4 linked regions of the Homo sapiens genome follow. The protein of the gene in region 1 purifies or fractionates together with the protein of each later gene. This does not show direct contact. Each region holds a gene or a part of one and is shown in the gene's direction. Other genes may lie near its edges.

The links. The genes of interacting proteins can lie anywhere in the genome.
Region 2: the proteins of FAM76A (region 1) and NSRP1 purify together in Homo sapiens (affinity purification with mass spectrometry, with the first as the bait; one large-scale study listed by BioGRID). This does not show direct contact.
Region 3: the proteins of FAM76A (region 1) and DDX42 purify together in Homo sapiens (affinity purification with mass spectrometry, with the first as the bait; one large-scale study listed by BioGRID). This does not show direct contact.
Region 4: the proteins of FAM76A (region 1) and PRP4K purify together in Homo sapiens (affinity purification with mass spectrometry, with the first as the bait; one large-scale study listed by BioGRID). This does not show direct contact.

The regions. Positions count from the first base shown.
Region 1 is NC_000001.11:27,749,961-27,753,460, forward strand, and holds part of FAM76A (protein FAM76A), read left to right. Parts: intron 1-99; coding exon of another isoform or gene 100-262; exon of another isoform or gene 263-1,586; intron 1,587-3,500.
Region 2 is NC_000017.11:30,123,316-30,126,815, forward strand, and holds part of NSRP1 (nuclear speckle splicing regulatory protein 1), read left to right. Parts: intron 1-3,500. UniProt on the Homo sapiens protein: RNA-binding protein that mediates pre-mRNA alternative splicing regulation.
Region 3 is NC_000017.11:63,801,670-63,805,169, forward strand, and holds part of DDX42 (ATP-dependent RNA helicase DDX42), read left to right. Parts: intron 1-3,401; coding exon 3,402-3,500. UniProt on the Homo sapiens protein: ATP-dependent RNA helicase that binds to partially double-stranded RNAs (dsRNAs) in order to unwind RNA secondary structures. Unwinding is promoted in the presence of single-strand binding proteins.
Region 4 is NC_000006.12:4,024,300-4,027,799, forward strand, and holds part of PRP4K (serine/threonine-protein kinase PRP4 homolog), read left to right. Parts: intron 1-3,500. UniProt on the Homo sapiens protein: Serine/threonine kinase involved in spliceosomal assembly as well as mitosis and signaling regulation. Connects chromatin mediated regulation of transcription and pre-mRNA splicing.

The DNA.
Region 1 (3,500 bases):
GCTGCTTGGGTCCTAATATCCAGAGTGTCCCATCTGTGTTGGTACAGTGGGCTGCTTCTCAACAAAGTGTTGGGACCAACCATTTTTCTGTTCCTCCAGGCCTGGGCATCCTGAAGTGAAACCACCTGACACACTTCCTGCGATCTTTGAAATCATCTCCATCCTGAAAACTCCTCCCATTCACAGTTCTCCTTCCCAGCCAGTAGTGGATATAGGAGCAGACCAGCATATAGGCTTACCAGGACTGATTTTGTTTATTTAGAGGGATACAAAACATTCTTTCCCATTGCCTTTTTTGTTAACTTGCTTTCAGACTCTACAAGGTTTTTAGAACTAGTTTCACTGATTTTTAAACTTCTTGAATTGAACCTTCTGGAATGCTTAATTTAGGTAGTCAGATTACATGGGGGGAGGAACCATAAAGATCATCTTTCTGGCCAGCTTTACTGTTCTCTCATAAGCTAGTCTGGCCATTGTGAAGAAAGGGATGTGGCACAGGTTGTCCATCACCTCTGCCAGGGCATGTGACCCTGCAAAAACTACTTCAAGGAATGAACTTTTTGAACACCCTGCTTTATAAAGGCCTAAGCCAAGACCTATGGCTTTAGATTCATTTCTGTTTTGTGCTCATTTATGATCCAGGCTGTGTTTGAATGACCTGGAAAAAGCTCGTTCGTATCTTCCAGTTTAACCAACCAGTCCTTAATGTTCACTTTCTATTAGCTTATTTTGTTCTTGAGATACTGCCACTATTCTTGCTGTCCATTGCTATGGATACACCAAGCTAAAAACTCAAGTTTTCTGTTCAGTGTTTTATTGCATCCAGTCATCAGCAATGCTGTTTTCCTCAAGTAGAAAGCTGATCCTTGACATAGGTACATGGTCTTTCATGGTGTCCTCCAGAAAAGATATTAAATGATCATTTTGACCAGGCACAGTCGTTCACACATGTAATCCCAGCACTTTGGGAGGCCAAGGCTGGTGAATCACCCAGGAGTTTGAGACCAGCCTGGGCAATATGATGAAACACCATCTCTAAAGATTAGCTGGGCATGGTGGCGTGTGCCTGTAATTCCAGCTACTCAGGAGGCTGTGGTGGGAGGATCACCTGAGCCTGGGGAAGTTGAGGCTGCAGTGAGCCATGATTGCGCCACTGCAGTTGAGCCTAGGCAGTGAGACTCTGTCTCAAAAAAAAAGGTAGGGGAGATAACTTTTTCCTTAAAATGACATGCTAATTTATTTTTCTAAGTAATTTATAATTTGAAAATTTGGAAATGTTTTCTGCTGTCACAAAAACTATTTTCATACCCATTTAAAATGTTCCTGCATTAGCATTTTTAACATTCTATTCTACTTGTTTGCATTTCTTTTTTTTAAATGTTCATAGCACAAGATAAATTCCACTTTGCTGTCCTCTTTACTTGTTGTGGGTTTTTTTTCCCTGCATTTACTTTGCTTTGAAAAAAGCATTCTGACATTTTTTTTGACAGTCCTTTTTTAATGTCATCCAAACCAAAATTTCACTGGCTACCCATTTCTTTTTTTTTTTTTTTCTTTTTTTTGAGACAGGGTCTCACCCTGTTGCCCAGGCTGGAATGCAGTGTCACGATCTTGGCTCACTGCAGCCTCGACCTCCTGGGCTCAGGTGATCCTTCCACCTAAGCCTCCCAAGTAGCTGGGACTATAGACATGCACCACCATGCCTGCCTAATTTTTGTATTTGTAGAAATAGGGTTTCACTATGTTACTCAGGCCAGTCCTGAACTCCTGGGTTCAAGTGATCCTCCTATGTTGGCCTCCCAAAGTGCTGGGATTACAGGAATGAGCCACTATGCCTGGCTTTTTTTGTTTTTTTTCTTTTGAGACAAGGTCTCACTGTGTCACCCAGGCTGGAGTGCAGTGGCGCAATTATGGCTCACTGCAGCCTCGACCTCCTGGACTCAAACGATCCTCCCACCCCAGCCTCCCAAGTAGCTGGGACTACAGGCACATGCCTCCACACTCGGCTAATTTTTTTGTGTAGATGGGGTCTCGAACTCCTGGCCTCAAGTGATCCTCCTGCTTTGGCCTCCCAACATGCTGGGATTATAGGCATGAGCCACCAGACCCAGCCCCTAAAATATTCATATACTTTTAAATTTATGCTCTTATTCTTTTATTTTTATTCCCCATGTTTTCTGCAAGTTGCTGCCTAATGGTTTTTCACTGACCTTTCTATACTACTACATTCTCTTCTCTTATTTAATATTGAGTTATGTTTGATTATTTTTCCTCCTTTTTGTTTATCCATTAGCCTTCTATTTTTTTTAGACAGAACACATTTTAGCTTTCAAAAATGGCTTTATAAGATGCTTTAGTCTTTTTTTTCTAAGTATCCTACAACATCCACAGTCTCTGTCTCAATATGTCCTAATTTGTTTGTTGAAATTATAACAAAAACTTTTCAATTTTAGGAAAATATAAGTTAATTTCTAGTTTTCCTTCCTCTAGAAAATACACTGGCTACTTTTTAATCATGTGTGTTTATTTTTCCATAGGCAATCAAAAAAGCAGCCACAACAGCTGGTGGCACTCAGGCACAGCTTGTGGTTTATTGTTTCTAAAGGACATTCTTTTTTTTAACTCGTAGTTTCATTTTATTCTCCGTCTGAAATGTGCCTGAAAGATTAATCTGTATAGCCTTTGAGGACTGACTCAGGACCAATATGTAGGGTTATAGAGAGGCAGGTTTTGGCTCAACCCAAGAAAATTGTTCTTACAGTACGAGCTTTTGTAAAAGACAATTTTTCTGGAGAAGTAGTAGTTCCCTGTCATTGGAGCCATTAGGAAAGAGACTGGTTTTTCTGCCTTGTTACCCTAGCCATCTTTTTTCATTTCTAGTAGTTCTTACTGAACCAGGAATTAGAGAGTTAGTGAGGGCTGGGCACGGTGGCTCACGCCTGTAATCCCAGCACTTTGGGAGGCCAAGGTGGGTGGATCACCTGAGGTCGGGAGTTCGAGACCAGCCTGACCAACATGGAGAAACCCCGTCTCTACTAAAAACACAAAAATTAGCCAGGCATGGTGGCGCACGCCTGTAATCCCAGCTACTTGAGAGGCTAAGGCGGGAGAATCACTTGAACCCAGGAGGCAGAGGTTGTGGTGAGCTGGAGGTTGTGGTGAGCCGAGATCATGCCATTGCACTCCAGCCTAGGCAACAAGAGTGAAACTCTGTCTCAAAAAGAAAAAAAGAGAAAAGAGAGAGTTAGTGAGGTCAGTCCCTAACACAGGATAGAAAGGATGGGTGTTGTCAACTATTTATTGGTATGGGGGGAATCCTCTCACAAGAAGCAGGAAGGGTAGGGCATTAAGAGGTTTGGGGACAACAAAAAGTTACTTACATTAGCTCATTACTCTAGTTATGGGTTTAAATAGACTCTATTCAGTTGAAGAAAGACAGGTCCTTAGCAGGTATTGAAACAGATGTGAGACTGCAGCTCTAAGGGTGCTTCCAGATCTGA
Region 2 (3,500 bases), on another chromosome or scaffold:
CTATGTTGGCCAGGCTGGTCTCGAACTCCTGACCTTGTGATCTGCCTGCCTCAGCCTTCCAAAGTGCTGGGATTACAGGCATGAGCCACCGTGCCCGGCTTTACCTCTTTTTAAATTGGGTTGTCATTTTATTATGGATTGTAAGAGTTCCTTTAGTATCTTATTAGATATATGGTTTGTAAGTATATTCTCCTGTTCTGTGGGTTGTCTGTTCACTTTTCTTGAAAATATCCTTCGAAGCACAAAAGTTGTTTTGAGGAAATACATTTTTTGCTGCTGTTGCTGGTGCTTTAGTGTCCTACCTAAGAAACCATTGCCTAATCCGAGGTCACAAAGATTTCCACTATGTTTTCTTCTAAGAATTTTGTTGTTTTAGTCCTTGAGTTTAGGTCTTTCATACATTTTGAAATTTTTTTTTTTTAATAATAAGAGAGAGGGGGTTCAACTTCATTCATTTGCATATGGATATCCAGTTGTCCCAGCACCTTTTGTTGAAGACTGTTTACCATTAAATCGTCCATCGTCTATTTACCATTAAATTTTCTAGCACCCTTGTGGTTTAATATACAAATAATTATAAAAATCACTTACTATGGATACAACAGAAGGATTGGACATGCTTATCTTGCATTTCACATTAAAGCACCCTGGTATACTGTGTAACACAAAGCATCATGGCCAGGCATGATAACTCATGCCTGTACCCTCATGCACTTTCGGAGGCTGAGGTGGGAGAATCGCTTGAGGCTAGGAGTTCAAGTCCAGCCTGGGCAACAGCGAGACCCCGTCTCTATAAAAAAAAAAAAAGTGTGGTGGCACGCACTGGTAATGTTAGGTACTTGGAAGGCTCAGGTGGGGAGAATTGCTTGAGCCCAGGTTTGAGGTTGCAGTGAGCTAGGATTGTGCTACTGCACTCCAGCCTGGGCAACAGAGGGAGATCCTGTCTCTAAAATAAAAAGAAAAAGCGATATGAAATGACCACAACATACCACAGTTTGAGAAGGATGGGTTTACACAAGTAATCTAGAGAGTTTTTTGATGTTACTGCTGTTTCTTTTCCATTGTGAAATGAGGCTGGTGTTAGCTAGCCAGTGGGTACACTAGAGTCAGCAAAGATAGGCCTGGGCCATTTTGTGCTAGCTTTCTCCTTCCCTCCTGCTCTTCCTCTTTTCCTCCTTCCTGTAGTGGGACTTTAATACAGAGAATTGTTAACATAGGTGATGGAAGACTTGAGATGCCAAAAAGGGCATGATGAGGCAGTCGAGAGATTAGCAGCAGTAAGAAGCAAGTAGTGATATATAGAGGGATACAAGTAGGAGATGGTTCTTGGAGGCTGGGGACCAGAGTTACCTGGTGGGAACTGGGCTTGTCCAGAAGGAGCAGAAACATTTGGGAGATTCAGTCTTAGAGAGAAAGGTTCTCCTACCTTCCGGTCAAAGCCAATGGACAAGGGAGCTGCAGCTTATTTCTTAGTGAACGGAATATAAAACCATTCCTTAGAATAATTTCCTTACCTATAAAAAAATCAGTCTGGTTAATTCCAGCTTGTCTTTTTACTGAGAAGTAAATTTATTGAGTATATTTAAATATTTGTGAGATTTGGCCAGTCATGGTGGCTCAGGCCTATAATCCCAGCACTTTGGGAGGCTGAGGTGGGCAGATCACTTGAGGTCAGTAGTTCAAGACCAGCCTGGCCAATATGGTGAAACACCATCTCTACTAAAAATACAAAAATTAGCTGGACATGGTGGTGGGCACCTGTAATCCCAGCTACTCAGGCTGAGGCAGGAAAATCACTTGAACCCTGGAGGCAGAGGTTGAGTGAGCTGATATCAAGCCACTGCACTCCAGCCTGGGTGACAGAACGAGACTCCGTCTCAAAAAAAAAGATTAAAAAAAAATTTGTGTGATTTGACTATATATTAAAATCTCTTTCATAATTAGTCAACAATTTAAGCAACAATTAAATTATTAGTGCTGTGGAAAATATAGAAGAAAGATAATTTCTTATTCCCCTCCTGAGGAAAGCATTTGATACACCTGGAAAGGAGCTGCTATGAAGCCAATTTATCTGTTCTTTTTATCAATTCAGCAGCATTTAAGATCAGATTTTTTCTCTAGTGGTCCAGCAGAGGGAGCCCTAGCACATGAATTGTTTTCATTTTGTGCTTGCATCCAGGGTTAGTTTAGTGGGAAAGTGGTAGTCTATCCCTTTTAATTATAATTTAAGCAGTTCCTCCTTTCTTTTTTGAGACAGAGTCTAGCTCTGTCATCCAGGCTGGAGTGCAGTGGCGGCATCTCGGGTCACTGCAGCCTCCACCTCCCAAGTTAAAGCAGTTCTTGTGCCTCAGCCTCCCAAGTAGCTGGGATCACAGGCGTTCGCCACCAGGCCCAGCTAATTTTTGTATTTTTTGTAGAGATGGGGTTTTGCCATGTTGGCCAGGCTGGTCTTGAACTCCTGGCCTCAAGGGATCTGCCTGCCTCAGCCTCCCAAAGTGCTGTGATTGCAGGCGTGAGCCACCATGCGTGGCCTAGTAGATCCTCTTTTTCAAATTGTCAGAATAAGTTAGAAATAATTATCATTTTGTTCAAGGTGGGAGAGATGGTTGGGGGGGTGGTGAAAGTTTTTACACCATATGAGTAAGAAAGCATATTCTGATGCTGCTATCAATTCATAAGTGAGTGGTTTTGCTGTCATAATTTTCCGGTCTCACTGTCACCATGTTCATTCTTTTCTGTTGGATTATTTTAATTGTTTCATAACTAGTTTCCTTATTATCTGTCTTCTCAAATTATTTATGATATTGTCAGATTGATCTTCCTAAAGCACAGTTATAATCACTGATCCTCAGTCCTGAACGTAATTATATTTAAAATCTAAAGTGCTAATCTTGACTTTGAAAACCTTCTCTATGCTTTGCCCCTAGAATGCTTACTAGCATTTTCTCCTAACTGTTCCTCCATAAAAAGTACACTGTCGTGCTTGCAGTTTTTCACAGCTCTGCTTTTCTTTACACTGGAAGTCTTCTCCCCATTTTTTTAATGTCCAAATTATAGCCATCCTTCAAAACCCAGCGCAAAAGCTACTTCTTTCAAGATACCTTCTTTGATTTTCCTCACTGGAAAGAATCTCTTCCTTTTTCTTACACTCTTTACCTTTCTTATTGCACTTAGCTTTTAAAAGCTTGCATTATAAGTTGTTTACATACATGTCTTGTCACTGTACTAGATAAAGTATGAGCTCTATGAGTTAGGATCTGGCCATCTAGCCTAGCTTCGTATTTATTTTTTGAAACAGAGTCTTGTTCTATTGCCCAGGCTGGAGTGCAGTGGTGCGATTTTGGGTCACTGCAACCTCCGCTTCCCAGCCTGAGCAATCTTTTAGCCTCCGCCTCCTGAGTAGCTGGGACCACCGGTGCGAGACACCACTCTCGGCTCATTTTTGTATTTTTTTGTAGAGACAGGGTTTCGCCATGTTGCCCAGGCGGGTCTCAAGCTCT
Region 3 (3,500 bases), on another chromosome or scaffold:
GTCTCGAACTCCTGACCCCAAGTGATCCACCCACCTTGGTCTCCCAAAGTGCTGGGATTACAGATGTGAGCCACTGCATCCGGTCACATTTGTTTTTTTAATTGCTATAAATTTTTACTGTTGGTCCTAGATCTGGGGCAGATGAGAGGCTGTTTCTTCACAGTGGAGCCAGTAATTACAGGATCCTTAAGGAATGAGGACATCGGTATACCCACTTGAAAAAATATCAGTGTTTCATCCAGGTTAAATATCAGCCGAGATCTCACATACACTAATGATTCTAGATCTGGAGCAGTGGTTCTCAGTGTGGACCAAGAACCCCTTTCAGGGAGCCTACAGAGTCCAAACACTTTTCATTATACCAAGATTGTTTTCCTTTGTTACTGCATCAACATTTACATTGTTGGTGTAAAAGCAGTGATAAGTAAAACTGCTGATGCCTTAGCATGAATCAAGCCAGTGGCACCAAACTGTTCTAGTAGGCGTATTCTCTGTTCTCAGACCATTGCAGTTAAAAAGAAAAAAAAAGGCCAGTTTCACTCAAGAATGCCCTGAACAGTAAAAATTATTAAAGTCGTGACCCTTGAGCTACATGTCTTTTTATTCTGTGTGATAAAATGGGAAGTACGCATAAAGCATTTCTGTTGCATACCAAAATATGATAGCCATTTCAAGGAAAAGCACTTATGTGTTTGAGTTGTAAGGTGAACTAGCTACTTTTTTTCATAGAACACCACTTTCACTGGACAAAATCAATGACATTTCAAGGAAAACAATTGAAAGTGTTTATTACCCATGATAGACATTCAAGCTTTCGGCCAGACGCAATGGCTCACGCCTGTAATTTCAACACTTTGGGAGGCTGAGGCGGGTAGATCGCTTGAGCTCAGGAATTTGAGATAAGCCTGGGCAACTTGGTGAAACTCCATCTAAATTTTGTTTTTTAATAACAAAATTCAGGCTGGGTATGGTGGCTCATGCCTGTAATCCCAGCACTTTGGGAGGCCGAGGCGGGTGGATCACCTGAGGTCAGCAGTTTGAGACCAGCCTGACCAACATGGAGAAACCCCATCTCTACTAAAAATACAGAATTAGCCAGGCATGGTGGTGCATGCCTGTAATCCCAGCTACTCGGGAGAGTGAGGCAGGAGAGTCACTCAAATCCAGGAGGCGGAGGTTGCAGTGAGCCGAGATCATGCCATTGCACTCCAGCCTGGGCAATAAGAACAACACTCCATCTCAAAAAAAAAAAAAAATTCAAGCTTTCAAGCAAAAATTAGAATTTGGAAAACTTACATCTACCACAGTAGGCTTGACAGCTTTTCAGTACTTAAAGACCATTGTGACAAAATTGATGGTGATATTAGTAACTGATTTTTAATATAATGAAATGTGTTAACATTTGGATGATCTGTATATAACCTCAGTGAACCAATATTTTCCAAATGATCAATGTATGACATTACAAAGTCAAGCATGAATAAAAGCTCAACTCAAAATACATGATAAATAAATGGATTATAATGTAACAGAGTGTGAAAACTTCAGTAATATGGTTTCAGATTACACAATGAAAATAACTTTTAGGAAATGACCACTTGTCAAGTTTTAGTGTAAAATAAAAAGTATCTGAAAAGGGCTGGGTGCGGTGGCTCATGCCTGTAATTCCAGCACTTTGGGAGGCCAAGGTGGGCAGATCACTTGAGGGCAGGAGTTTGAGACCAGCCTGGCCAACATGGTGAAACCCCCGTCTTTGGGATTGGTGGCAGGCATCAGTAATCCCAGTTACTCAGGAGGCTGAGGCAGGGGAATCACTTAAACCTTGGAGGAGGAGGTTGCAGTGAGCTGAGGTTGTGCCACTGCACTCCAGCCTGGGAGACAGAGCAAGACTCCATCTCAAAAAAAAAAAAAAAAAAAGGTATCTGAAAAGGCTACTAAAATACTGTCCTCTCTTTTTCAACTACGTATTTTTCCTTTGCTTTTTTTTCTTTTTTTGAGATGGAGTCCTGCTCTGTCGCCCAGGCTGGAGTGCAGTGACGCAACCTTGGCTCACTGCAACCTCCTCCTCCTCCCGGGTTCAAGAGATTCTCCTGCCTCAGCCTCCCGAGTAGCTGGGACTACAGGTGTGTGCCACTACGCCCGGCTAATTTTTGTATTTTTGGTAGAGACGGGCTTTCACCATGTTGGCCAGGCTGGTCTTGAACTCCTGACCTCAAGTGATCCATCGGCCTCAGCCTCCCAAAGTGCTGGGATTACGGGTATGAGCCACTGCTCCAGGCCTGGAGGCAAGAATTTCTTATAGGCTTAAATAAAACCAACCTATTGCAATAATTTGAATATAGTAGGAGCTATTTAAGTCGACATTAATAAAGAGATTTGTGAAAATACAATAGTGTCACTCTTCTTCCAATTTTTTTTATGTATCCAGAACTATGATTTTTTTTTTTAACTACCTATAGAATGCTTATATTTTTCTTAAAAAATAAGTTTAAGAACCAGGCATGGTGGTGCATGCTTGGAGTCCCAGCTACTGGAGAGGCTGAGGCAGGAGAATCACTTGAGCCCAGGAGTTTGAGTCTAGCCTGGGCAACATAGCAAGACCCTGTCTCTGAAAAAAAAAATAGTTTATAAAAAATAATTTAGCCAAATTGATAGGTGGTGATGTGCTTATGTTTTGTATACCTACTACACTAAGCTATGAAAAGAATAATAGAAGTGACTACTACTTTCTGGAATTGGAAATTCTTGGCCATACATTTTTTAAAAGTTATAAACAACTCCATGTTTTTAAACAGAATAGAACTCCCTCTAAAAGCAGAGCTATCTCCAAAATAAATATTAGGAGTGTTTTTAAATGCTTAGAGCTAGGTTAAACAGCTTTATTCAAAACATATTTAAATGTTATATGGTGAAATATCTTCTCTGTCCTCTGAGGTCTTTGGCATTATAGAGAGATTCCTTAGTCTGCTTCAATGTTGTTCAAATTCGAGGTTTCCTTAAGAGTCTCTTTAGGAAGTAGGTTGGTGTTAGGCTAGGCACAGTGGCTCATGCCTGTAATCCCAGCTACTTGGGAGGCTGAGGTGGCGTGAGAATTGTTTGAACCGGGGAGGTGGAGGCTGCAGTGAGCCAGGATCGCACCACTGCACTACAGCCTGGGTGACAGAGCGAAACTGTCTCAACCAATAAAAGAAGTAGGTTGGTGTTTATATTGAAAATAGGAACAGAAAACAAACTAGCTATACTTTTTAGGATCTAAGCTGAGAATAAATTAATTTTTTTGCTTTCTCTAGCTGGAATGGCTTTACTTGTGTAAAATTTGGAAAAGATTATTTTGCAATAAAATCAAACTTACAGAATTGACTCTTGAATTCTAGACTAACTTTGAATAATTGGACCTGCAGATTGACTATCCACCATTTGAAAAAAACTTTTACAATGAGCATGAAGAGATAACCAACCTCACTCCACAGCAGTTAATAGATCTCCGGCATAAGCTCAAT
Region 4 (3,500 bases), on another chromosome or scaffold:
TTGAATCTAGCCCAGGCAACATAGTGAGACCCAGTTTCTTAAAAGATATATACATTTTAACTTGTCAGAGAAATAGGCTTAATTACTTTCCTGGTAAATAGCAGTGGCGTTCACTTTGCTCGCCACTAAAAAAAAATTTAAAGAATTGTCTAGCTTAAAAACGGCTTTATTCATACACAAATTTAAATCAGTCAGTTCTCTGTGTCTCTGTATATTTTGAATGCCTACCAAATAAATTCACTAAGACTATTGTTTGGAAAAAAATGTGAAAGAAGAAGTTAAAATAACACTGGTGGTTGGTGATTGGTGACTATTTTATTTTTTTGAGACCGAGTCTCTGTTGCCCAGGCTGGAGTGCAGTAGCGCAATCTTGGCTCACTGCAACCTCTGCGTCCCAGGTTCAAGTGATTCTCCTGTCTCTGTCTCCCGAGTAGCTGGGATTACAGGCACGCACCACCATGCCGTGCTAATTTTTGTATTTTTAGTAGAGACGGGATTTCACCATATTGGCCAGGCTGGTCTCAAACTCCTGACCTCAGGTGATCCGCCAGTCTCAGCCTCCCAAAAGTGTTGGGATTACAGTCATAAGCCACTGCACCTGACCGTGACTATGTTATTTTAAAGGCGTTCCACGATTTTCATTCATTGTGCTGGGTGCCTCAAGACATGGGTTTTTTAAAAGGTAAAACTTAACAAAACAAATAAATACTGTTAAGCAACCCCATGTTGTCTGCACTTCTCATTCACCTTTGCTTCCAAATAATGTGATCTGAAGAATGTTATCCAATATTCAATAGGTTCTCAATAAATATTTTGTGATAAACCTGTTGTGACCAGGTTGGTATACACATCCACTTGGCTAAATGTGGGATATTAAATTGTAAAATGTTAATGTTAAAGCGTAAATTTATATAAATGAAATATATATGGCCTATATTTATTGTCAGTATAAACTATCCAAGAGGGCCGTTAGGTTTCTTAACAAGAAACCTTTTTCTTGAGCTTTAGAAGAAAGTCGTTGATGATAAAGCTAATTTAGCTGTTTTAGCACAGGCCCATTGTATGTAATACATTATGCCATTGACTCAATGTTTCAAGTTTTCCAGATTGACCTGGTCAGACTTTAGTTGTGATTTGTGACATTTGCATTGAGAGATGAGTTGAGACTGGTAAAGATCCATTGTATGCCTAGCCCCTGTATAAGAAAATGCTATAATTAAGGTTAACCTGATTGTACCGAGCTGGTAGCATTTTTAGCAGGAACCTACTCATTATTTCTTGAGATAATACTCATTAATTTACAATGGAAACTAGTCACTCATGGGAATGACCCTTCTACAGTGATACTGGTCATCATGATGTATTTCTAATTCCCAGAAGCTCTAGGAGCTAGATTTTCTGTTGATAGAAGTTGATTCCTCTATGGGTAGACTCTTAACAATTTTTAATGAAACTCCTAAGATTTTTGTAAATTGTTAGCATTAGAAAAGATAAGGTTCAAAAAACTGATTTTCCTTTGGGAGGGGTTGATGAAATGTAAGTAATTTTGAATATCACGCAGTCAGAAAATAGGTGTGTGCCTACTATGTGTGTGCACTGTGTGAGGCACTGGAGATAAAACTGAGCAAAGCAAAAATCTTAACTTTCAAGTTCTAAGAGTCTATAATAGATAGTGTAAATCAGCTTTAGACAACTTTTATATGCTTTTTGTTTGTTTTTGAGACAGAGTTTTGCTCTTTTTGCACAGGCTGGAGTGCAATGGTGTGATCTCAGCTCACCACAACCTCCGCCTCCTGGGTTCAAGCAGTTCTCCTGCCTCAGCCTCCCGAGTAGCTGGGATTACAGGCATGTGCCACCACGCCCGGCTAATTTTTTTGTATTTTTAGTAGAGATGGGGTTTCTCCATGTTGGTCAGGCTGGTCTTGAACTTCTGACCTCAGGTGATCCACCCGCCTCAGCCTCCCAAAGTGCTAGGATTACAGGTGTGAGCCACTGTGCCCAGCCTTTTTTTTTTTTTTTTGGAGACAGAGTCTTGTTCTGCCACCCAGGCTGGAGTGCAATGGCGCAATCTTGGGTCACTGCAGCCTTCGCCTCCCAGGTTCAAGCACTTCTCCTGCCTCAGCCTCCGGAGTAGCTGGGATTACAGGCATCCGCCATTATGCCCGGCTAGTTTTTTGTATTTTTGTAGAGACAGGGTTTCACCATGTTGGCCAGGCTGGTCTTAAACTCCTGACCTCAAGTGATCTGCCTGCTTGGGCCTCCCAAAGTGCTGGGTTTACAGGTGTGAGCCACCGTGCCCGGCCTTATGTTATTCTATATATATAATTAACACAAACAATACTTACTGAGCACCTGCTATAGATTAGATAATCTAGGCCCTCAGAGATAGAGCAGTGAACTAAAATGAAAATTCTGCTCATATAGTGCTTACATTATGATAGGGAGAGACAAACAAGAATTATATTAGTGGTAACAATTGCTTTGGAGAAAAATGTTAAGCACAGAAGGAGAATATGTGTGCAGTGGAGTGGTTTTGCATTTAAAATGGATTGATCAGGAAAACTTGTTTGAGAAAGTGACGTTTTAGCAAAGACAAGGTAGGCCAAGGTAGCCAGGAATGCATGTATCTGGGGAAAGCATTCCTGGCAGGAGAAACAGGTCCCACGTACCTGAGATGTGAGTATGCCTATTCAAGGAACATGGTGTGGCTGGAGCAGGGTGACCGTGGGAGAAGAGTGTTAGGTTTAGAGTGTGGGGGATGTTGGGGCTGTAAGTATAGGACCTTTTGCTCTGAATAAGGTAGAAAGCAATAAAATTTCACAAAGAGTAGTGACATAATCTGACTTTTAAAGCATCTTAATCAAATGGAAGATCTTTTGACTGACTTGAAATAACAGCCTTCTCACTGGTTTGTTGTATGTGTGACCTTAGGCAAGTCCCTTGAAACTCAAAATTCTCAACTCAAATGGAGAGACATTTCTTGAACACTTAGTGTGACAGCCTTTTATACTATGAACTCATTTAATTTTCATAAGCCTATGATTTGTCAGTACTATTACCCCATTTTTTACAGTTGAGGAAACCGAGGCACAGAAGAGCAACTTGCCTAAGGGCACAATAGCTTTGTCATGTTGGAGGCAGCATTTAAACCAGGTAGTTTGACTCCAGAATCTATGCTCTTTGATGCTGTTCCTAAAAATAACATTCTTATTAGCAGCCCTCTCAGCTCCACAGGATTTTTGTGAATAAATATATTTATCTAGCATCTATACAATAATAATAGCTTATTTGGCGGAGGGGTGGGGGGGTGGGGTGGGGGTTGGTCCGTGCTAGGCACTGTCATAAGCATTTAACATCTATTCACTGTGTAAACTTCATAACACCTTTTCAGGTAGGTACTATTGTTTTCTCCGTCATGTAGATGAAATGCCTGAGGATCACTTGCCAAGACCACACAACTAGTAAGTAATGAAACTGGAATTTGAACCCAGGCAGTCTGG